Linked DNA regions of Homo sapiens. The protein of the gene in region 1 interacts with the protein of each later gene in a pairwise test. Each region holds a gene or a part of one and is shown on either strand. Other genes may lie near its edges. The genes, in order: COIL, POLR3C, PTS and ARMCX1.

Region 1 (7,040 bases):
TGAGCAATTTATAAACACATCTCCAGGACATAGTTATATACTGAGATGACTCTACAAAATGTAACTACCATCAGTCAATGAAAAAATGTCACATCACTTAAAGACAAAAGACTCTTTCTGGCAAAATGGCCTATGTAGCATTACTCACAGTCAACTTTCAAATGGCTAGTTTTATTTATTGAATAGCTACTGCATCCTAAACATTTTTAATACGTTTTTCTCTAATCTAAACACCAACACAAAGTAGGTATTTTTAATTTTACAGATCGCAAAATTACAGCTCAGACAAGTTACTTGCCCCAAATCTAGAGCTGATAAGTAGCAGAAACGCAATTCAAACTTCAGTTTGTCTAACTTCAAACTCACAATCTTTCTACAATATGCATGTCACCTACCCTAAAAGGTGATAATGCTGATTATCCATTTTGTTTCAGAATGTGGGCTTCTTTCTTTAATAAGATTTTACTCCTGTTTTAATTTAGGTGAATACTAAACAATTTATGTTCTCTAGGGTAGTGACAGCCATCTGTACAATTCCACAACACTCTGTGAAGCTTAATTTTATGTATCAATTTGTCCGGGCTATTGGACGTCCAGATATCTGGTTAAAATTACGCTGGCTCTTTCCATACCACCACAGTGGTGCACATGAATGTCTTGGCTGATGCTCTCAAGAGCATCAACAAAGCTGAAAAGCAAGGTAAATGCCAGGTTCTTATTAGGCCGAGCTCCAAAGTAACTGTCCGTTTTCTTTTTTTTATTTTTATTTTTCTTTTCTTTTTTTTTTTTTGAGACGGAGTCCCAACTCCGTCACCCAGGCCAAAGTGCACTGGTGCATTTCTCAGTTCACTACAACCTCTCCCTCCCAGGTTCAAGAGATTCTCGTGCCTCAGCCTCCCAAATAGCTGGAATTACAGGCGCCTGCCACTATGCCTCGCTAATTTTTGTATTTTTAGTAGAGATGGGGTTTTGCCATGTTGGCCAGGCTGATCTTGAACTCCTGGCCTCAAGTGCTCAAGTGATCTGCCTACCTTGGCCTCTCAAAGTGCTGAGATTACAGGCATGAGCCATCGCACCCAGCCCCATCGTCCAGTTTCTAACTATAATGATGAAGCATGGTTACACTGGCAAATCTGAAACCACTGATGATCATAGAGCTGGGAAAACTGTTGTGAACCTCACAGGCAGGCTAAACAAGTATGGAATAATCAGCCTCAGATTTGACGTGCAACTCAAAGATCTAGAAAAATGGCAGAATAACCTGCTCCCATCCCACCAGTTTGGTTTCACTGTACTGACAACCTCGGCTGGCATCATAGACCACGAAGAAGCAAGACGAAAACACATAGGAAGAAAAATCCTGGGATTCTTTTTATAACGATGTAATACGTATTTACAAATATATTGCCTCAGTGGAAAAAAAATTATGCTGGGAGTATGTGCAAGGTTGTTTCTGGATGAGATTAACATTTAAATTGCTAGACTGAGTAAAGTACATTGCCGTTTCCAATGTGGGTGGGCCTCATCCAACCCACTGAAGGCCTGAATAGAACAAAAAGACTGAGTAAGGGAGAATTCATTTCTCTGCCTGACTCTTCAAGCTGGGACATCGGTCTTCTCCTGCCTTCAAACTCGAACTTGAACTAGAAATATACCATTGGCTCTCCTTGGTCTATAGCTTACTAAGTGAACTTAGGACTTCTCAATCTCCACAATCCTATGAGCCAATTCCTTACAATAAATCCCATGTCTGTGAGTGAGTATTTGTGTGTGTGTGTGTGTGTGTGTGTCTTACTGGTTATGTTTCTCTGAATAACCCTACTTCATCCAAAATTTCACTATAGGAAAGCAATTTTGTTCCTCCATCAACAGGCAACAGCTAATCCTAGTATGTGCAGTCTGATGATGATGGAAGTCTTGAGACTGTCCTCAATGTTAAGCAAATTGTGAGTACTCAAAAATGCCTGTTGGCCAGGCACAGTGGCTCATGCCTATAATCCCAAAACTCTGGGAGGCTAAGGTGGTAGGGTGGCTTGAGCCCAGGAGTTTAAGACCAGCCTGGGCAACATAGGGAGACCCTGTCTCTACAAAATACAAACATCAGGCTGGGCACGGTGGCTCACGCCTGTAATCCCAGCACTTTGGGAGGTCAAGGTGGGTGGATCACAAGGTCAGGAGATCGAGACCATCCTGGCTAACACAGTGAAACCCCGTCTCTACTAAAAATACAAAAAATTAGCCAGGCGTGGTGGCGGGCGCCTGTAGTCCCAGCTACTCGGGAGGCTGAGGCAGGAGAATGGCGTGAACCTGGGAGGTGGAGCTTGCAGTGAGCCGAGGTCACACCACTGTACTCCAGCCTGGGCAACAGAGCAAGACTCCGTCTCAAAAAAAAAAAAAAAAAAAAATACAAACATTAGGTAAGTATGGTTGGTGCATGCCTGTGGCCCAGCTACCTGAGGTAGGAGGATCACTAGAGCCCAGGAGGTCCAGGCTGCAGTGAGCTGTAATTGCGCCACTGCTGAAAACACACATTATACTTACAAGGCATTTACATTCAGCTATATATTTCATCAAGTTTTTTCAGTGGCCAGGGAAAGATGTAGACAATCATATTTGAAAATAAAGAACAACTGGTGAATGATAGGAGCATATGTGACAAGCATTCTTTAAATTTTTTAAGGCATAGTAATCCTGTGGATTTACCTCAATGCGGTAGTTGAAAAAAATCCTCAATTATTTGTCAGAAAACTAACTATACAGACAAACAAATCAAGATAAAATAAGAGTTACTGATATCAGGAGTAGGAGAAAGAGACAAATAAAATGCTGAGTGACCAGGGATTTTAAATTATAAAAACACATTCCCCTCTGTTCCCAGCTTGGCATCTAATAGCAAGGAAATAATTCTTAATCTGGCAAAAGCCAGTTTGGCATCCTGTGAATCTAAGAACTACCATGGAAGCGCTACAATATCAGATTTTTTTCTTGACATTTCTGATCAATTTGTTTTCACTTGTAGCAATGATCCAAGCTTCAATTCTGAGATGACCAAATAGGACCAAACTTTCTGTCAAATGTTGAAAATGGTTGCAAGTCTCTGTTCAGTCACTGTGGTTTATTAAGGCCCTGGAAAACAGCACATGTAACATCCAGTTGATGAGAACCCCTTCCTTTCCTGGAAGCTGGCAACACCCTCACGCCTTCCAAAACAGCTCTTAGCATCGTCTCATCCATTCTTAAGACCATGCATTGGCCGGGCGCGGTGGCTCATGCCTGTAATAATCTCAGCACTTTGGGAGGCTGAGGTGGGCAGATCACAAGGTCAAGAGATCGAGACCAGCCTGGCCAACATGGTGAAACCCAGTCTCTACTAAAAATACAAAAATTAGCTGGGCATGGTGGCATGCGCCTGTAGTCCCAGCTACTCGGGAAGCTGAGGCAGAAGAATCGCTTGAACCCAGGAGGCAGAGGGTGCAGTAAGCCAAGATCACGCCACCGCACTCCAGCCTGGCGACAGATAGAGACTCTGTCTCCAAAAAATAAAAAAAAAAAGACCATGCATCTACAGCTATTTGGCTTGAAGGTATGACCTGTGATTCCTGCAGCCCCACTACCTACTGTTCCCCAAGAGAATAATTTCAGTTTTTAAAATATTAAGATTATAAACTGGTGTGGTGGCACATGCCTGTAATCCCAGCTACTCAGGAGGCAGAGGGAAGATCACTTGAACCCAGGAGTTCAAAACTAGCCTGGGCAACACAGTGAGCCCTCATCTGGGAAGAAAAAAAAAAAGAAAATATTAAGATTGAGAGGCAAAATACCATCCAGAGAAAAAGAAATGGTTCTCCTGGGTCTGCTTAGTTACCATTCCTGTCAGGTGCACCTTCCCTGGCAATATTCTCTATTTCTTTACCTGGATCACAGACAAAGAATAGAGCTATCCTTTTACAAACAAAAGTGCATGCATTTGTCCTTTCACAAGTAGAAGTGAATTACCTAGGTCACTAGTGACGAAAGAGTTGATTCCAAAAAACAGATCCCCACTTTTCTTTTTTCGAGATGGAATTTTGCTCTGTCGCCCAGGCTGGACTGCAGTGGCATGATCTGGGCTCTCTGCAACCTCCTCCCCTTGGGTTCAAGCGATTCTCCTGCCTCAGCCTCCCAAGTAGCTGGGATTCCAGGTGCCTGCCACCACGCCTGGCTAACTTTTTGTATTTTTAGTAGAGATGGGGTTTTGCCACGTTGGTCAGGCTGGTCTCGAACTGACCTCAGCTGATTCGCCCGCCTCGGCCTCCCAAAAGTGTTAGCATTACAGGCGTGAGCCACCATGCCCAGCTATCCCCACTTTTCATTCTAACTCTTTGCAAGGCAAACTGAGTGGTATTATCAAAATCTAAGTCCACCCTTAAAATCTACAATTTACTGTCTAGGATTCTGTTATGCAGAAACACTGACATGCCCATCTGTCCAACCTGATGCTCCCTACCCATTGCCTGCCAAGGCCAACGTGAATGCCTGGGTTCAAATGCTATTTCTGCCACTGTAATTTTTTTTAAAATCATTACCTCAGCCTTTCTCATCTATAAAAATGGGGATAATGACAATAATTACAGTACTCAGTGACTTATTATGCAGAGAGAGCATGCCTGACTCAGAACAAGTGATATCCAAATGTTAGCTCTAATTTTTATTAGTACAATGAATGTTGTTAGTCCTATCATGGGTAAGTTGGTGAATTTTTAAAAGTTGTACAAGTCTGTACAACTTTTCTGGAAGCTAATTTGACAGTACTTATCAATTTTTATATGTACCTTCTCTTAGACCAATGAGTATTTCTTCTAAGAATAAATCCAACTGAATAATTTTCCAAGTACAAAAAAAATACAAGAATATTCACTAAAGCACTATGTAGCAAACAGAAAAGAATGACATACATCACACACTTTATATACTGAGATAGCCCATGATAGGTAAAAAAGCAAGGTGCAGAACAGTATGTTATGATATTTGTAGTTTAAAAGTATAAGTACATATGGTTGCACATGTATAGAAATCTGGCTCTAAGATATACCCCATACCCCAAACTTAACCAAGGATACTTCTGGAGAGTGAGGTGTGGGAAAAAGTATATGATAAAAGTAGTAGGAAACTTTTTATCTTGGACTATCCAAGGAGCCACTAACTACAGCAATATGAAATGAGAACTCGTCTCTAATATTTTGTTTTGTTTGAGATGCGGTCTTGCTCTGCTGCCCAGTCTGGAGTGGAGTGACACGATCATGGCTCACTGCAGCCTCAACTTCTGAGGCTCAAGTGATCCTCTCACCTAAGCCTCCCAACTAGCTGGGACTACAGGCATCCATCACTGAGCCTAGCTAATTTTTTTTGTTTGTTTTTTGGGGTTTTTTTGGTAGAATAAGGGTCTCCCTGTGTTGCCCAGGCTGCTCACAAACTCCTGGACTCAAGTGATCCTCCCACCTCGGCCTCCCAAAGTGTTGGTATCACAGGCATAAGCCAACATGCCTGGCCCATCTCTAACATTTAATCAATGTGTTTTTTTGTTCGTTTGTTTGTTTGTTTTTTGAGGTAGGGTCTCACTCTGTCGCCCAGGCTGCAGCGCAGTGGCACCATCTCAACTCACCGAAGCCTTTACTTCCCAGGCTTAAATGATCCTCCCACCTCAGCCCCTCAAGCAGCTGGGACTACAGGCATGTGCCACCATGCCCAGCTAATTTTGTTGTATTTTTCTGTAGACATGGGGTTTCACCATGTTGTCGAGGCTGGTCTCGAACTCCTGAGCTCAGGCAATCTGCCTGCCTCAGCCTCCCAAAGTGCTGGATTATAGGCATGAGACATGGCGCCCAGCCTTCATCAAGTATTAATTGCCAGAGTTAAAAGGGTCAGGGAAGACAGAATGCACTGTTTCCTTACAGAATTGATTCTTCAAAAGGGAGTTTCTCAGGCCGGGGGCAGTGGCTCAGGCTTGTAGTCCCAACACTTTGGGAGGCCAAGGCGGGAGGACTACTTGAGCCCAGGAGTTTGAGACCAGCCTGGGCAACTTAGTGAGACCTCTCTACTAAAAATAAAAAACTGCACCTGTAGTCCCAGCTACTCAAAAGGCTGAGGCAGGAGGAGCCCTTGAGCTCAGGAGTTCGAGGCTGTATAAGCCAAGGTTGCGCCACTGCACTCCAGCCTGGGCAATGGAGTGAGACCCTGTCTCAAAAAATAAGGGAGTCTCTCTGAATCTACTGTAATTCTGAGGGCTGCACGATTAAAAAAAATTTAAAAATTAATTAAAAAAAATTAAAAACCGCCAGACACAGTTGCTCACTCCTGTAATCCCAGCACTTTGGGAAGCTGAGGAGGGCAAATCACTTGAGGTCACAAGTTCGAGACCAGCCTGGCCAACATGGTGAAACCCCATCTCTACTAAAAATACAAAAAAATTAGCCTGGCATGGTGGCGGGTGCCTGTAATCCTAGCTACTCGGGAGGCTGAGGCAGGAGAATCGCTTGAACCTGGGAGGCAGATGTTGCAGTGAGCCAAGATCGTGCCACTGCACTCCAGCCTGGGCAACAGAGTGAGACTCTGTCTCAAGAAAAATAAATAAATTAATTAATTAATTAAAATAAAATAAAAAAACCAAATCTGCCAACACCCTGATCTTGGACTTGTAGTCTCCAGAAGAGTAAGAAATAAATTTCCATTTTTTAAGCCATACAGTCTGTGGTATTTTGTTATAGCAGCCCCAGCAAACTAACACAGGGGGCTCCAAGCCAATAGAAGCACCTCCTCCTCCTCCCAGGACAGTTAGAGACCACCTTTAGGAACTCGCTGTCAGAAACCTGGGGGCAGATGAAGCCAGATTCCTGGGGCTTAAGAGAATGGGCTATGAGGAAACAGCAGTGGAACACAAGTGTGTGGTGCATCCAAAGCCTCAAAGGCTGTTTCTCAGGATTCCCACAACCTAGTTCCACTTTTCCTCATTAGCCTTCTCAGTACTGCCAATGATCCCAACAGAATGCTTTGGCTGGTCAGAC
Region 2 (3,743 bases), on another chromosome or scaffold:
ACAGAATTTAATCCACCTATTTTTGTAAACTAGCAATTCTGAAGATGTTCTGAGCTTCTTCTCCATCACCATATACACTCTCTTGTTCATCAAGTACTGATAAATTTTTTTTAAGAGACGGGGTTTTGGCTGTGTTGCCCAGACTGGCCTTGAACTCGTAGGTTCAAACAGTCTTCCTGCCTCAGCCTCCCAAGTAGCTGGGACTACAGGCAAGTGCCACTGCGCTGGCTTAATTTTACTTGAGTCATGTGTCTCAAATCTGGCCTTTCATCTTGGTCCACACGCAGGCCTTCATCACCTCTTTCCTAGACCTTCACATTTCAGTGCACAATTTGTGCACCTCTTTCATTAAATTTATTTCTTAAGTATTTTTTTGGATACTAGTTTAGTGGTCGCTTATTTCAGTTTTAGATTGTTCATTGCTAGTGTTATACAAAAACAACCAACTTTGGTGTTGTGATTTTGTATCCCACAACTTTACTAAATTCATTTATTAATTCTAGTAGTTTTTTTGCAGATTCTTTGAGATTTTTTATAATAGGATTATGTCATCCATGAATAGAGAGAGTTTTACTTCTGTCTTTTCAATCTAGATGCCTTTACTTTTTTTTTTTCCTGCCCCATTACCCTGGCTAGAACCTCCAGTAAAAGGTTGAATAGAAGTACAAAAGCAGACATCTTTGTTTTGTTTCTGATCTTAGGAGAAAAGCTTTTAGTCTTTCACCATTAAGTATGATGTTAGCTGTGGGTTTTTCCTAGATGGCTTTTGTCAGGCTGAAGAAGCTTCCATTTCTTCCTAATCACCACTCACTTTAAGCTTCAGACACTCTTAGTTTCTTGCTATTTTAAAACACACTAGGTCCTTTTATACCTGTGCCTTTACGTTCGTTTTCCTGATTGCAAATGAAGACTACCTTCCCCCAGGACAGAGGCTCTGTATTTTGTATTCTTAGCAGTTTGCATGGTGTCTGGCACATAAAGATGCTCGGTAAATAGCAAAATGATCTACTGGTTCTCCTGCTTTCTTTCCATCCACTCTCAAGGGTAACCAAGCAGTTATCCATGGCCACACCCACCCTAACCTCTAATCTTAAATATGCTAATGAACATTCAGTCTAGGCAAATGCCTTTACTTTTCACTCAGGTTGGATGCCAGTGAGATCCAGGTGGACGAAACCATCTTCCTGCTGGAGTCTTACATTGAGTGCACCATGAAGAGACAGTGATCCAGAAGAAGCATCTTCCTCAGAAGATCTGGGGGGATGGAAAGCAAAATAAAGGAGGTGCCTGGATGCATTATTTGCAGTGGGATAAGTCGCAGAGTCTTCAACTAAACCCCCCTCTCTATCCCCTGCAGCCCAGGATACACCTGAAAGAATTTGGCATATTTAGATCCATTGCTGTAGTCTCCCCTCATCAAATCTTGGCAGTGGGAAGAACCTTAAATCAACAAGGTTAATCATCTATCAGATGCATCTGTTCCCATAAAGAAGTTACCCACACCTATGGTTACCTATATCCCTGGCAATAGGAAACTTCCTAAGAAGTTAATTTTATTTTCAGATGTCTATGCCTGTTCTTTATTTTGTTGAGATAGGTGATAGATAGATAGATAGATAGATAATTTGTTGTTGTTGAGACAGGATCTCACTCTGTCACTCAGGCTGGGGTGTAATAGCGCAATCACAGCTCCCTACAGCCTTGACCTCCTGAGCTCAAGCAGTCCTTCCACCTCAGCCTCTGGAGTAGCTGGGACTACAGGCATGCACCACACATACCCAGCTATTTTTTATTTATTTATTTATTTTTTTGTAGAGACAGGGCCTCCCTGTGTTGCCCAGGCTGATGAACTGTAATTTTTAACACACACAGTGTAGGGAATGTGAAAGACTATCACAGAGTAGAAGAAAAAATTATTTTCAGGGTTAGCAGGTGGATTGTCCCAAGCAGTCACACTAGAATCTGTGGACTGAAGCCACATTTGCCAGCTCCAGGCTTCTAACACATCTGAAACTGTGTATGTAGAACAGCTAGCTCAATGCCTGGCATATGGTAAGCACACAGTAAATTAGCGCCTTCCTCTTCTCCATGGTTCCTTAAAACTGGCAACGCTAAATTCTCTCTCTCAGTATCACGGATATAATTTGTCCCAGCAGCTTTAATTCATTTAAAGCAGTTAGATGTTTTATAATATCTTCAGTTTTCTCTCACCAATGTGTTTTCTAATTGTTTAAACACTTGAGTGTCAAACAATTGCCAGCCACCATACTAAACACAACATACAAGGATAGATAAATAAGACACCATCTCTGCCCTCAAGCCAGTCACCATCATTTACTAAGCACCTGTTTTGTGCTAAGTACTGGGGTAAGCCTTGGGGATATAAAGATTAATAAATTTTGAGCATACAGTCTAGTAGGAGGAGACAAATAAGTACATAAGTACCAGGAAGTATTAGGGGTGCTACAGTAGAAGAGTAAACACTATGTACAGAGAGGCCAGAAAGGGAAAAGGGTCAGGCAGGGAAGGGAACACAGAGAGTGACAATGTATAGTTTGAAAGATGAGGATGCTTTATTTGCAAACTATCTTAACAAGGGATTCGTAACCAGAATATATAAGGAGCTCAAACAATAGCAAAAAGAACAATCCAACTTAAAAATGGCCAAAAGATCTTAATAGGTAGTTTTCGAAAGAAGATACACAAATGGCCGACAGATACATCAAAAAATGTTCAACATCACTAATCAGAGAAATGGAAATCAAAATCAATGAGATAACATCTCACCCCAATTCATTACTTTTATCAAGAAGAAAGAATGAATGCTAGTGAGGATGTGGAAAAAGGAGAGCCCTGCCTGGTACACTGTTGGGAATGTAAATTGGTACAGCCACTGTGGAAGACTACAGAGGTTCCTCAAAAAACTAAAAACAGAACTATGCTCCAGCAGTTCCACTACTGGGTATATATATATCTCCAAAAGGAAAGAAATCAATGTATCAAAAAGATACCTGCACTCCCATGTTTATTGCAGCAGTATTCACGATAGCCAAAACATGGAATCAACCTAAGTGCCCATCAATAGATGAAAGGCTAAAGAAAATGTATTATTCAGCCATAAGAATGAATGAAATCCTGTCATTGGCAGCAACATGGATGGAATTGGAGGTCATTATGTTAAGTAAAATAAACCAAGCACAGAAACAAATATTGCATGTTCTGTCTCACATAGGAGCTAAAAAAGTGGATCTCAAGAAAATAAAGAATAGATTGGTAGTTACCAGAGGCTAGGAAGGATGGGGAGGATGAAGAGAGGTTGATTAGTGGGCACAGATAATACAGTTTGAAGAAGTAAGACTGGTGTTGGATAGATCAGGGTGGCATAGTTATTAATTTACTGTACATTTCAAAACAGCTAGAAGATAATTTTGATGGTGCCTAAATCCTGTAATCCCAACACACTGGGAGGATCAGTTGAAGCCAGGAGTTCAAGAACAGCCTGGGCAACAGTGAGATTTCATCGTTACAAAAAAATTTAAAAATTAGCCAGGTGTGGGTAGTGCACATCTGTAATCACAGCTACTCAGGAGGCTGAGACGGGAGAAGCGCTTGAACCAGGGAGGTGGAGGTTGCAGTGAGCTGAGATGGCGCCACTGCACTCCAGCCTGGGTGACAGAGCGAGACTCCGTCTCAAAAAAAAAAAAAGGCCGCGCGTGGTGGTGGGCGCCCTGTAATCCCAGCTA
Region 3 (5,086 bases), on another chromosome or scaffold:
GATGGAGTTCCACTCTTTTTGCCCAGGCTGGAATGGTGTGATCTCCCGTCACTACAACCTCCACCTCCCAGGTTCGAGCGATTCTCCAGCCTCAGCCTCCCGAGTAGCTGAGATTACAGGCGCCCGCCACTATGCCTGGCTAATTTTTGTATTTTTAGTAGAGATGGGGTTTCACCATGTTGGCCAGGCTGCTCTCAAACTCCAGACCTCAGGTGATCTGCCCGCCTCGGCCTCCCGAAGTGCTGGGATTACAGGCTTGAGCCACCACGCCTGGCCAAGATTTTTCAAATGCTTCTCACAAGCACTTTTTAATTTACAAAGCATTACTTTAGACTTTGTATACATTCATGTGAGTAAGGGGACAAGAATTTAAGGCCCAGTAGTATTGCTTGTTCAGAAAGGTACTGCTCAGTATTGGACCAGCTTGCTGTGTAGCTGGACACCTGAAAGACATTTTCTACTTCTACAGGCAGAGACTGAGCAGCATCTTGATGCTCCCTAGTGCATTAACATAAGCAGAATTTACACCCTTTTCAGCCTTGGCCGAGTGCCTCTGCTTAGCCAACATTCCTACTAAGCTCCTTTGTCTCGATTGTGTCTTGCTTTGGTTGCTAAAAAAAAAATCTTAACTAAAATAACAGATGTTTTGGGGTAAATATTTAAGTATAGCTTTTGGGGACAGATCTAATAATTTATGTTGCCAACTTGTGCTTGTATGTTGCTAACTTGTGCTTGGATGTTGATCTGTTGAAAGTCATGCTGTTTTTTTTGTATTTTGTTTTCTTTCCATAGTTGTGGTGACAGTACATGGAGAGGTATGTGCAGAAAATATTTGTGTGGTTTTTGCAGATTGCTGGGCTCTCTTTCAGCCAGTGTGGTGGATTCTGTGTTGAAAACTGTTCCAGTCAGTATTGCTTCATTGTTGGCCCTTGTATATGTGTGTGTGGTGAGCTGCCGCCATTCCAGGCCTCTCCTCTACCAAAGTGTTGTCTTTAATATGCTGTATGTGGACAGGTAGAAGGGCTATACAATGAAAAGGATGCTTGAAGTACATGGTGCTTCCATGCTGAGGTCAATGATTATCTCTGGGATGAAGGCAAATGTGCAAATGTGGGCACAGTCTCTGCACATTGTACTGCCTTTAATAATTTGCCAGCCGTTTAATATGGAGAGCCTATCACAGTAATATTCACCTTTGTTTATTCTTTAGATTGACCCTGCTACGGGAATGGTTATGAATCTGGCTGATCTCAAAAAATATATGGAGGTAATGGCATGTTGGGTGCTTATTATGTGCTATTCCCTAACTGTAATATTTGGTGGCCCCCTATCTACCTCCCCAACCAGTTATCTCCTAAGGTTCCATGACTTTGTGAATAGAACTGGATGTGGGTGTTGGGGAATAGTTGGAAGAACTGCTCGCATGGCCTCTAAAGGTGTTTTGGTGACTTAACGGAAATTAGTCACAGTTGTGTTACAGCGATGGGAGGAAATATAACATGCTCACCTTGTATTCCTTGTTGGAATATCCTGATTTCCTTCAGTTAACAAATTCTCCATTTCTTTTAAGACATAGCTTTCTCCTTGAGACTTACTGTCTTTCTTTTTTTTTTTTTTTTTAAATAGGCACAGAACCAATGCAAACTTTTCTTTTTGGTAGAGGTAGGGGTCTCACTATGTTGTTCAGGCTGGTCTCAGACACCTCCTGCCTTGACCTCCCAAAGTGCTGGAATTACAGGCATGAGCTACTGCTCCTGGCCTTCTCCTTGGAGCTTTCTCTTCCCTCTCTGAATATTCCTTGTACCTTTGATCATAGATTTAGACACCACACTGTGTTGTTCATTCTAGCTTTATTATAAACTCACCAGAGCAGTACCTCATAGAGATAACACACAAGGTGTTCAATGAAGAACTTAACTGATTGTGTCATTATAGAATTCTTGCACTGTAAGAGACTTTGGAGATTATTCAGACCAACTTCTTCAACCCATAGATTAAGATTGAGAGATGCTGAACAGTTAACTGACTTGCCCCAGGTCATATGGCTAGTCATTTGCAAAGCTGGGAGTAGATTTCTTTCCTTCCAGCTGTTTTATTATGCTGTCATTTCACTTGCAGCTTAGGTTTGTTCTGAGATTTGACATTTGCTTGATTAAAATGATGTTATTAGTAATGATTACTTCTTTCACATTACTTATTCATATATTCAACAAATTTCTCTACTTCGCATCAGTTTTTGAGCTAAGTGTACAAAGATGAATGAGATGTAGCCCACAGAGTGTATACATTACTTTTTCTAGGAGGTGAAGAATATTATTAAATAACTGTTGATTTAATAAATGAGTAGAAGAATGAGTGAATGAAGAAACAGCACTATGCTCAAAATACTTTAGGAAAGTTATACAGATAGGGCCAGCATGCATTTATGGGGCAGGGGTTGGGGGGCAGGCGGAGAGAGAGAGAGAGGGAGACAGAGACAGGAGAAGAGGAGGGGGAGGGGAGGACAGGGGAGGAGAGGGGAGGGGAAAGAAAGAAAAAGAAAAAGAGAAAAGAAAAGAAAAGAAAGAAAAGAGACAAGACAGCAACATAAAAGGCCTCAACATATGACTAAATACTGGAGGAGGGCTTCTCTATGCTGTTTTCTGCTTTTGTATGCCTGAAGGACACCACACACTTTCATCAGTAAAAGTGGCTTATCATGGCATGTAGAGTAAAGTTAGAGCTCTACCGTGGGGGGAGGATTGCTTGAGTCCAGGAGTTCAAGGCTGCAGTGAGCTATGATTATGCCACTTGCACTCCAGCCTGGATGACAGAGACCCTGTCTCTAAAAACAAAACAAAAGAAAACAAAAAGCCCTGCATAAGAGGCTTTAATGGAGAAATTGGGACTGGAACTGGGATTGAAGATGAAGCAAGGATGCCCGTTTTCTTGTTATTCATGTGGAACATCCCTTCATTGGATATATTTCAATAACTGTTTGATCTAGGACTTACTCTTTTTGTATGATTCTAGTTTTTCTCAAGAAATGATTGCTGTTACTGTTATTAATGTACCCTTCTTCAAACTACGTCCTATGGAAAATTACATTTTTTTTTCACAGATGCTTAGATTTTTTGCAATAGCTAAAAGCAAAAACCTAGAAAGAATGAGGCAATTTAATCCTTGCTGATGATGAGGAAAAACATTATGTTAATATACACGAGCATTAGGGAGTAATAGTCTTTACATATATATATTTTTCCTTCTATGAGCCCAAGATCATTCTTAAATTATTCCTCATAGCAAAAATTTAGAACTACTTACATAATTTCAGTCTAGGTCTGCTTTATAAAATGTAGTAGTCACTGGATCTTTGTCCTTATGATATTGTGGCATTGTTCCGTAGGTGTGACAGTGTTATGGAAAAATATTTGTGCTAACTGTTTGGACAGGATTCACAAAGTGTTAAACTGAATTCTGAATTACAATGGCTTGTGTTGCGAGAAAGCTCCAGGAATTCTCTGCTTTTTGGTTTCTCACCTCTTTTTATTCAGTAACAAGGATTCCTAATCATTACCGACAGCTGGGCCTGACTTTATTTTACAACTTGAAATTTTGTAAAGTTGCCTTGTAAGACTCAAATCTAGTACTTACAAATATTTAGTTAGTGGCTAAGTGATAAGGTGAGGTTTAGAGGCATAAGTGGAACAATTTGGAATTTGAGTCGTAAATGGAGTCAATGATATTTTCCCTTGGTTTTGTCTCTAGGAGGCGATTATGCAGCCCCTTGATCATAAGAATCTGGATATGGATGTGCCATACTTTGCAGATGTGGTGAGGTGGGTGGCACTGTATCTTGCCTTATGTGGATTGTAAAACAAGAATTGATTTGAATACTTTGATTGTTGTGTGATTTCTGAAGTTTTAATTTAATGAAATCTTTCGAAACTAGAATTTCTATTTTCTGTAAATATTAAACATGAAATTTTATTGTTTGCATTTTGAATTTTTTTTGTTTTTGTTTTTTTTTCTTATAGCACGACTGAAAATGTAGCTGTTTATATCTGGGACAACCTCCAGAAAGTTCTTCCTGTAGGAGTTCTTTATAAAGTAAAAGTATACGAAACTGACAATAATATTGTGGTTTATAAAGGAGAATAGCTATTGGGGTTAGCATTGCACAAAGCCCAGTTTCTTTCTGTGTTTGAAAAAGATTTTGATCCCCTTGGAATATTAAGAGGTCAACACGTGATTGTTGTACGTACACATTGTGCTCTGGAGTGCCTATTTATTGAAATCATTGTAAGACCTGTTATAAATTTAAGTCTATTTAAAACTAAACTTGTAATATACATCCTGAAAATCATTTAGAGAGTCTTTTATTTATAAATTAAAAATCACTTCATTTTCACAAAATGTTTTGGTGTGGGATTATTTGAAAGCAAAAGAAATCTAATTTTGTTTTCTCCATTACCTCATTTTAGTATTAATTTTTACTTGGTATAATATACATGGTTAAAATGCTTATGTGACTTCGAGTAGGTGAATCTTAAAGAAATAAAATTCAAGTGACCACAAAGTCTGGAGACAATATATATATGTATATTTAATAGATTGAACTCTCTTGATTACTACTTGTTGGGTGTGCTGAAGGCATAAGTGGATTCAGTGAAAATTAGACACACAAATCATGTGAGGCATCTGTTGTGGATACACGTACAAATATTGATGGAAATGCTGCTTTAGAGCACATCATTCATTACAATTTTGCACAGCGTATTGAACTATGAATTGCTAGTGAGGAACAACACATTAAACATATCATGGAATATCAGTAAATTATTCAGTATACTCCTCTGAATTTCTGAACCTGATGGGCACTTGAATAATTTCAACTCAGAAGACTGCAGAATAATCATATTTTAAACTCTAAAAAATAGTCAGCATAAAAAGGATCAACTACCATATAAAATATTTCCTGTATATAGTTTTTCCTAATTGATCCCATTTTGTTCTGATTATTAAACTTACTATATGCTTGGCATTCTTCTCTGGGATCTTTTCCTCGTGACTAAATCCACAAGAAAGTATTTGCTTACTTTGCACG
Region 4 (7,943 bases), on another chromosome or scaffold:
AACCACAATGAGATACCATCTCACACCAGTTAGAATGGTGATCATTAAAAAGTCAGGAAACAACAGGTGCTGGAGAGGATGTGGAGAAATAGGAACACTTTTACACTGTTGGTGGGACTGTAAACTAGTTCAACCATTGTGGAAGTCAGTGTTGCGATTCCTCAGGGATCTAGAACTAGAAATACCATTTGCCCCAGCCATCCCATTACTGGGTATATACCCAAAGGACTATAAATCATGCTGCTATAAAGACACATGCACACGTATGTTTATTGCAGCATTATTCACAATAGCAAAGACTTGGAACCAATCCAAATGTCCAACAATTATAGACTGGATTAAGAAAATGTGGCACATATATACCATGGAATACTATGCAGCCATAAAAAATGATGAGTTCATGTCCTTTGTGGGGACATGGATGAAATTGGAAATCATCATTCTCAGTAAACTATCGCAAGAACAAAAAACCAAACACCGCATATTCTCACTCATAGGTGGGAATTGAACAATGAGAACACATGGACACAGGAAGGGGAACATCACACTCTGGGGACTGTTGTGGGGTGGGGGGAGGGGGGAGGGATAGTATTGGGAGATATACCTAATGCTAGTTGACGAGTTAGTGGGTGCAGCGCACCAGCATGGCACATGTATACATATGTAACTAACCTGCACAATGTGCACATGTACCTTAAAACTTAAAGTATAATAATAATAAAAAAAGGAGATATACCTAATGTAAATGACGAGTTAATAGGTGCAGCACACCAACATGGCGCATGTATACATATGTAACAAACCTGCACGTTGTGCACATGTACCCTAGAACTTAAAGTATAATAAAAAAAAGAAAAAAAGTTGGTAAATTTTGTACTGTAAATATAAAAAATTCTATATAGAAGTCCAAAAAATTATAAATCGGGAAAATATTTATAACACTTATTGAAGTCAAAAGACTCATTTGCTTAATTTGCAGAAAGTTCTTATGTATTAGTAAGAAACAGATGAACAACTTAGTAAAAAAATGAGGAAAGACAGTACACAGAAAGATAAATACAGATGCTTAACAAACCTCTAAGAAGATGTTTAATCTCACTTATAATTAAATAAATTAATTATTTGGAGCACAACATAGAATGCATATATATATATCTATCTATCGATCGACCTATATATATATATAAATTTAAGAGGTGAAAGTTGGCAGCATGGGTAAAATTTAAAATGAACACCCATTTTGACACAATTATTTTACTTTTAGGAATTTATCTTGAGGAAATAATATCATAGTTGCCAAAATATATATAGACAGAAGTCTTCACTGTGGCATCTTTGTAATAGATAAAGATTAGGAAGAGGCTAAGTATCCATCAGTAAAAGATTGGTTAAATTCTGGTAAATCCACGCTTCAGAATATTAGTGTGTCTGCTAAAAAGATTCACATGATATATCAGGTGAAAAAAATAGTTATGCAGAATAATATGCATAGTATAATCCCAAATTATTTTAGAAAGATATATGTGTACACACACACATAATGTATCTACATATATTTTTTAGTAATATATGTGAAACAACAACAAAACCTGGAAAGAGTCACCTGAAAAATTAACAGTGGTTTTCATAGGATTTATCCTAGGATTGAAGTAGATTGGTTATCACAGTAGTTATCAGAGGGGTGGGGAAGTTGAGATTTTTTATTTTCTGTTCCCCTCTTTTCCTAGTTACCACCTGCTTTTCTTCATCTCAGCTGAAAACTTCACTCTCTCTGCCCCAGCAAGGAAACTTTCCCTGATCCTCAGACTATGCCCCTTTTTTAAAAACGATATTAACAGAGGTTTTTTCCTTTACAGTATTTTTCTCTCTCTCTGTGTGTGTGTGTGTGTGTGTGTGTGTGTGTGTGTGTGTGTGTGTATGCGCTCATTTTATTAAGGTCTTATTTCCACCACGAGAGAAGAGTCTGTGTTGTTTTTGCTCACCAATACATTCCCCATAAGCTCAGCACTTGTGGCCGCTCTCCCTATTTCCTCTCCTTCCCAGTATTATGATATGGACAATTTAATTTTCCTCAGTCTTATATAAAGGGTTATAAAAGTGCACCTTTAGGCATCCCCCAAATCATCCATACACAGATGAAGAAGAACACATGAAAAACAAACAGCAAATGTCAGGTTGCACTAAACAATGAAATACTAAGGACACTCCCATTTTCTTCAAGAATAAGATCTGGAGGCCCTCAATCACCATTATCATTCAAACTAGTTCTGCAGGTTCTGGTCAATGGAATACATGCAGAAAATAAAAGAATAAAGAATATAAATACTGGAAAAGAAGAAATGAAAAATCATCATTTGCAGATATTATGCATGCATACCTGGAAAAACCAAAAGTATCGATGAAAAAACTATTAGAAATAATAAGAATGGTCACTAAAGATAAATATATCATAATTAATTACTTTACCTGAGACAAACAATAACCAGGTAGAATGTGTAATCATAATGGGAATGTCATTCATATAAACAAAACACAAACATAATAAGAAATGAGTATAAAGAAACATCACATTTATTGAAAATCTCAAAAGTTGGCATGGATAGAAAGACTCCATTTTTAAAGATGTAAATTCTCCAATTAAAGTGCAGATTTATTGCAAGTACTGCAGTAAATGTCAATTGTTTTGTTTTGCATATTGTTCAACTTGGAACTTGACACATCCACATACATATACTGTATATTTGCAGGAAGAAAGGTCGATATCATTGAAAGTGCTTGGTGGTAGAATAGGCATTGCAGGGCAGTTTTGCATTCTACTCTACAGATTTCTGCACTTAAAAAAATAAGTATATAACTAGAGACAGAGAAGAGGGGAGAGGAATAGACTTTCTTTTTCTTTTTCTTTTTTTTTTTGAGATGGAGTCTTGCTCTGTTGCCCAGGCTGGAGTGCAATGGCACAATCTCAACTCACTGCAACCTATGCCTCCTGGGTTCAAGCAATTCTCCTTCCTCAGCCTCCCAAGTAGCTGGGACTACAGGTTCGTGCCACCATTCCCGGCTAATTTTTGTATTTTTAATAAAGATGGCGTTTTACCATGCTGGCCAGGCTGGTCTCGAACTCCTGACCTCAAGTGATCTGCCAGCTTCAGCCTCCCACAGTGCTGGGAAGGAGTAGATTTTCTATTGAGGGGATATATAGCTTTTTTTCAGGAAAGTATTAATAGTTCTTAGTTATTTTTTAAAAGTCATACATGCCTGTGAGAATCTGATGAAAGCTATGGCTCCTTTCTCCACGAAAATGAATATACGTATGACCACAATTGCAGGTGGTCCACAAGGTTGTCCGTGTGAGAATGCCTACTCTGGGTTAATCCATGGGGATTGTTCCTTAGGCATACATTTGGCTGAGCGGGCACCAAGGTGGATATGGACTGGCAGGCAGTAACTCTGCAACAAGATTAGGTTCTCTTTTTAAGGAAGCCAGAGGCAAGAAGCCCAGCGGGCTGCACCTCTCAGGTCAGGTGGTGGCAGCACACAGTATTAGGAGCAATGCTCACTCAGGCACCATGAATAAGGGCAGAGGGGTAGGTAGGAACAGAAAGCCCTTCGATGCATTGCTGTTACCTCTGTGGGAATTTGGGGAAGGAAGGGAAGGAGCCAAAGGTATTTACTCTGATTGGTCACCTGAGTAAACGTGGCATTTACCACCTTGGTCACTCATCTATATATATTTTTGGAGTGAACAATAGATGGGTGCCTGAATACAGGGGATGAGAGGCTATGGAATGTGGAAGGGTGGGAGGGCAGCACCTTCTTCCGCTCTTGACAGGGCAGGAAGGATTAGAACATCGCTGCATCCCTCACACCCTCAGGTGCCTCAGCCTTGGTAGACTGGAATTCAATTCAGAGGCAGGTGATCAGAGTAGCCATCAAATCACAAGAGGTTCATATAACAGTCGGTCAAGACTTTGGGACGTTAAATACATGCTTTTCTTTAATTTAATAAGACAGGGTTGTGTTGCTTTAACTTATCAAATTGCAAGTTGATTCAAAAATAGAAAAAGTAAGGAATTATTTGTGTAAAATGGCCAAGATTAGACAACTGGTCGTCTCTTTGTGGAGTAATTCATAGATCATGTAAAAAAAATCCATTTTTTTTAAGAGATAGAGGCTTGCTCTCTGTCACCCAGGCTGGAGTGCAGTGGTGACATCATAGCTCACTGCAGCCTTAAACTCCTGGGCTCCAGCAATCCACCCACCTCAGCCCACTTTTCAATTTTAAAATGAGTTATTTTGTTTTAAAAGCTACTAATTGGCTGTAACCAGTAGAAATATTTTCCTACTGTTACAAATAAAATAACGAAATTAATGAGGCCTTTTGGGTTTTCTCTCCCGTTTAAACTCTCCACTCAAAGGAAAATAGCATCATTTTATTTTCTCAATATAAAAGTAATGCGTTACTGATTTAAAAACAAATGAGCAGAAAAGTTTAAATAAGACACTCCCACGATCTATCTCCTTTTCTAACATCTTGCTCCACATTTTACAGGGGTGCAGAAGAAATAGGACATTCATGACTTGTGATGGGGGGAGGTATAGAGAGAGACAGTTGGACTGGGACTAGAGAAGATAAAAAATTATTCCTCGAAGAGGAAGAAAAGGCCAACGGACACGGGAGCAGATACAGCCTCTCCCTGTAAACCAAAGAAAGGCAAATTCACCACAAAGAGAAGCTACTTCTAGTCTCCGGGGTTGGCAAAGAGGAAAATGAGTGACAGGACCTGATGTGTCAGGGAAGGAAGGGGAGGGCCGGCTTCTGCGGCGCTGCTGATGGGAGTGGTAATTGGGGTCCTGATCTCATGGTTGACGTGGCCCTCACGTGAGCTGGAGCCGACGCGTGCAGACGTCCTTCTAATCCTAGTCTTCGTTTGGTCCGGTTGCACTCTTCCTATAGCCCAGAGGGCGAGAGGGCCTGTGGCCTGGGGGAAGGAGGACGAGGTTCTGCCTGGATCCCAGCAGGTTTGTGTGTGGATGGGCGTTGCCAGGGGATCCCTGCGGCGCGGGCAGTGAACCGTGGAGGCCGAAGGGGGAGCACAGTTCACTTTCTCCAAACCCTTGCAGTATCCCTTGCCCTTTCTAGAACAAAAATGGTAGACCTTGGGGCCGGATTCCAGGGGCGACCCCAGACTCGGGCGTCGTGGGACCTTTAACATCCAGGGCCTTGAATCAGGGAGGGCGGATATTCGGATTCATGTCCTGTGTGCTGGCCCATCTACCAAGCCAGAATCTTGGGGCTGTGCGTCTGACAGTCATACCCCTTTTCTTTCAGTAGGACGCTGTGCCATTTGGGAACAAAGGAATAGTCTGCCTGGAATCCCTGCAGGTCAGTGTAAAGCTGGAGCTGTCCCGCGGCGCCCAGAAGGACTGGGATGACTGAGGTCCTTGCCTTAACTTGGGCCCTTTACCGACTCTCAAGCAATCTTCCTGCCATTTTTTTTTTCTTCAGTAAAAGAGGATGTAACAGTGGCTGCAGGAAAAGTGCTTGTGATTGCGGGTAGGGTGCGTTGGGGAGAGGAATAGAAGAGATCGGTTGGTTTTGTTTTTCTCCTCGGATTTTCCATATCCCCCCTCGCCCCGCCCCGCTTCCAGTGGTTTGAAAGGGGTGTGGTTTTGCTGGGAAAATGGCCGACCGCTGGGGCTGCGGGAGGGAGTGAGGGCCGGGGGCGGGGACGGGGGTAGGGGAACACTACCAAGCGACAGGGCTGGTGTCAGCGGAGTCCAGAGAAGTGAGGGTAGGGTGAGAAACAAAAAGGTAAAATCCATTGACAGCCAGGACCCTGAATTAGGAGAAGTGGATATTGGGACTCCCCGAAGTGCTTTTCTGTCCGCTGAGCCTTCAGTTTCTGCCTTGTTGCCTGTGTCTGCAGATCTTGGGGCCGGAGGCCAGTCCAACCCTTGGAGCAGGAAGAAACGCAAAGTTGTCAAGAACCAAGTAGGTCATAATAAGGGTGATGGCATTATTTGGGGGTGGAGCATGGTGGCGACTGCAACTCGAATGGGCCCGTGGACCCCTTCCATATCCCCCTCCTTCCCTCTTATCTACACCATTTCGGAGCTTGCAAAAGAAATTGTTCTGCAAGTACAAGACAGGGAAGAAAATAGCTGAGAAGGGGTGGGCGTCAAGAGAGTCCAGGGGTTGGGAGGACGTTACTCCAAATTACTGTTTGGGGTACAGGGTCCTTGGTGTTGGTCCGTCGACCAAGCACTCACTTCTGAAGTTTGTCAGTCTTGAAGGTTTAGTGGAAGCGGAAACCGAGGTGAGGGAGGTAAGAAATTGCTCCGGAGCAGAGGTAGTTGGTATAATGACACGGGGTGGGGGGGGGGGGCGGCGGTGTCCTGGTACATTTGAGATGGAGGAGTTGGCGGAGGCAAGGGCGGAGTTGGAGACCTTTAGGCATTTCACGCCAGTACGGCTTTTAGATATTCTCACTTCATTTTGTTACAAGGAAAATGTTAACGATGAAAATGTGTGGCGACATCTTCGGAGGATGCCAATGATGGGAGTAGGGGTGGAGGTGGAATGGAGGGTTAGAGGAATCATCGAAGGAGGAAGAGGGAGGGAGATAATGAATTCCAAAGCCGCAGCTCTGTGAGGAGAGGAGGGTAACCGAAGGCGGGAAACATTGGGCAAGGCAGTTGTAAAGGGCTAGGAATTCAGAAGAGGGATGTGTGCCCCGTCCCGGGTGAGATCTATATGTACCCAGAGCTCTCAGTACCCCTCTCCCCGCGCCCTTGGTCTGCAGGTTTGCACGAAGCAGTGCACTTGGAAGCAAGAAAGAGAAGGAAAAAAAACTGCCTGGACCTCTGTGGGTGCATGTGAGGGCGCCACTGTTCACAGGACATCTGGAAGGGCAGGGGTGGCAGGGAACTTTAACGTTCTAGGGTGGGGTGGTGGAACGTGAGGTTGGAGAGTCTTTAAGCGGGGAAAATTTCCAAACTTAGCTTCCGGGTGGAAGAAAGGAATCAGTGATCTAGATATCAAGCCCCGAGTCTCTGCCAGTATCTCTGTATTTTTGTACGTTTGTTTGTTTTGTTGTTGTTTCAGTCTGTTTGCGTTCAAAGACACAAAAAGGAGCCTGAAATCTGAAATGCATCCTTTATTCCTAGGTCGAGCTGCCTCAGAGCCGGCCCGCAGTAGCTGCAGACTCCGCCCGCGACGTGTGCGCGCTTCTCTGGGCCAGAGCGAGCCTGTTTTGTGCTCGGGTTAAGAGATTTGTCCCAGCTATACCATGGGCCGCACTCGGGAAGCTGGCTGCGTGGCCGCTGGTGTGGTTATCGGGGCTGGTGCCTGCTACTGTGTATACAGACTGGCTTGGGGAAGAGACGAGAACGAGAAAATCTGGGACGAAGACGAGGAGTCTACGGACACCTCAGAGATTGGGGTTGAGACTGTGAAAGGAGCTAAAACTAACGCTGGGGCAGGGTCTGGGGCCAAACTTCAGGGTGATTCAGAGGTCAAGCCTGAGGTGAGTTTGGGACTCGAGGATTGTCCGGGTGTAAAAGAGAAGGCCCATTCAGGATCCCACAGCGGAGGTGGCCTAGAGGCCAAGGCCAAGGCCCTTTTCAACACGCTGAAGGAACAGGCAAGTGCAAAGGCAGGCAAAGGGGCTAGGGTGGGTACCATCTCTGGGAACAGGACCCTTGCACCGAGTTTACCCTGCCCAGGAGGCAGGGGTGGAGGCTGCCACCCCACCAGGAGTGGATCTAGGGCCGGGGGCAGGGCAAGTGGAAAATCCAAGGGAAAGGCCCGAAGTAAGAGCACCAGGGCTCCAGCTACAACATGGCCTGTCCGGAGAGGCAAGTTCAACTTTCCTTATAAAATTGATGATATTCTGAGTGCTCCCGACCTCCAAAAGGTCCTCAACATCCTGGAGCGAACAAAT

What was found.
Region 2: the proteins of COIL (region 1) and POLR3C interact in binary tests that used the Homo sapiens proteins (3 or more experiments, as listed by UniProt).
Region 3: the proteins of COIL (region 1) and PTS interact in binary tests that used the Homo sapiens proteins (3 or more experiments, as listed by UniProt).
Region 4: the proteins of COIL (region 1) and ARMCX1 interact in binary tests that used the Homo sapiens proteins (3 or more experiments, as listed by UniProt).

Annotation. Positions count from the first base shown.
Region 1 is NC_000017.11:56,951,027-56,958,066, forward strand, and holds part of COIL (coilin), read right to left. Parts: intron 1,418-7,040; exon of another isoform or gene 1,084-1,417; intron 738-1,083; exon of another isoform or gene 622-737; intron 1-621. UniProt on the Homo sapiens protein: Component of nuclear coiled bodies, also known as Cajal bodies or CBs, which are involved in the modification and assembly of nucleoplasmic snRNPs.
Region 2 is NC_000001.11:145,841,195-145,844,937, forward strand, and holds the end of POLR3C (DNA-directed RNA polymerase III subunit RPC3), read left to right. Parts: intron 1-1,144; coding exon 1,145-1,226; 3' UTR 1,227-3,208; downstream 3,209-3,743. UniProt on the Homo sapiens protein: DNA-dependent RNA polymerase catalyzes the transcription of DNA into RNA using the four ribonucleoside triphosphates as substrates.
Region 3 is NC_000011.10:112,229,416-112,234,501, forward strand, and holds the end of PTS (6-pyruvoyl tetrahydrobiopterin synthase), read left to right. Parts: intron 1-792; coding exon 793-815; intron 816-1,210; coding exon 1,211-1,267; intron 1,268-3,747; coding exon 3,748-3,818; intron 3,819-4,016; coding exon 4,017-4,140; 3' UTR 4,141-4,558; downstream 4,559-5,086. UniProt on the Homo sapiens protein: Involved in the biosynthesis of tetrahydrobiopterin, an essential cofactor of aromatic amino acid hydroxylases. Catalyzes the transformation of 7,8-dihydroneopterin triphosphate into 6-pyruvoyl tetrahydropterin.
Region 4 is NC_000023.11:101,545,642-101,553,584, forward strand, and holds the start of ARMCX1 (armadillo repeat-containing X-linked protein 1), read left to right. Parts: upstream 1-4,905; 5' UTR 4,906-5,019; intron 5,020-5,329; 5' UTR 5,330-5,383; intron 5,384-5,927; 5' UTR 5,928-5,992; intron 5,993-7,167; 5' UTR 7,168-7,289; coding exon 7,290-7,943. UniProt on the Homo sapiens protein: Regulates mitochondrial transport during axon regeneration. Increases the proportion of motile mitochondria by recruiting stationary mitochondria into the motile pool. Enhances mitochondria movement and neurite growth in both adult axons and embryonic neurons.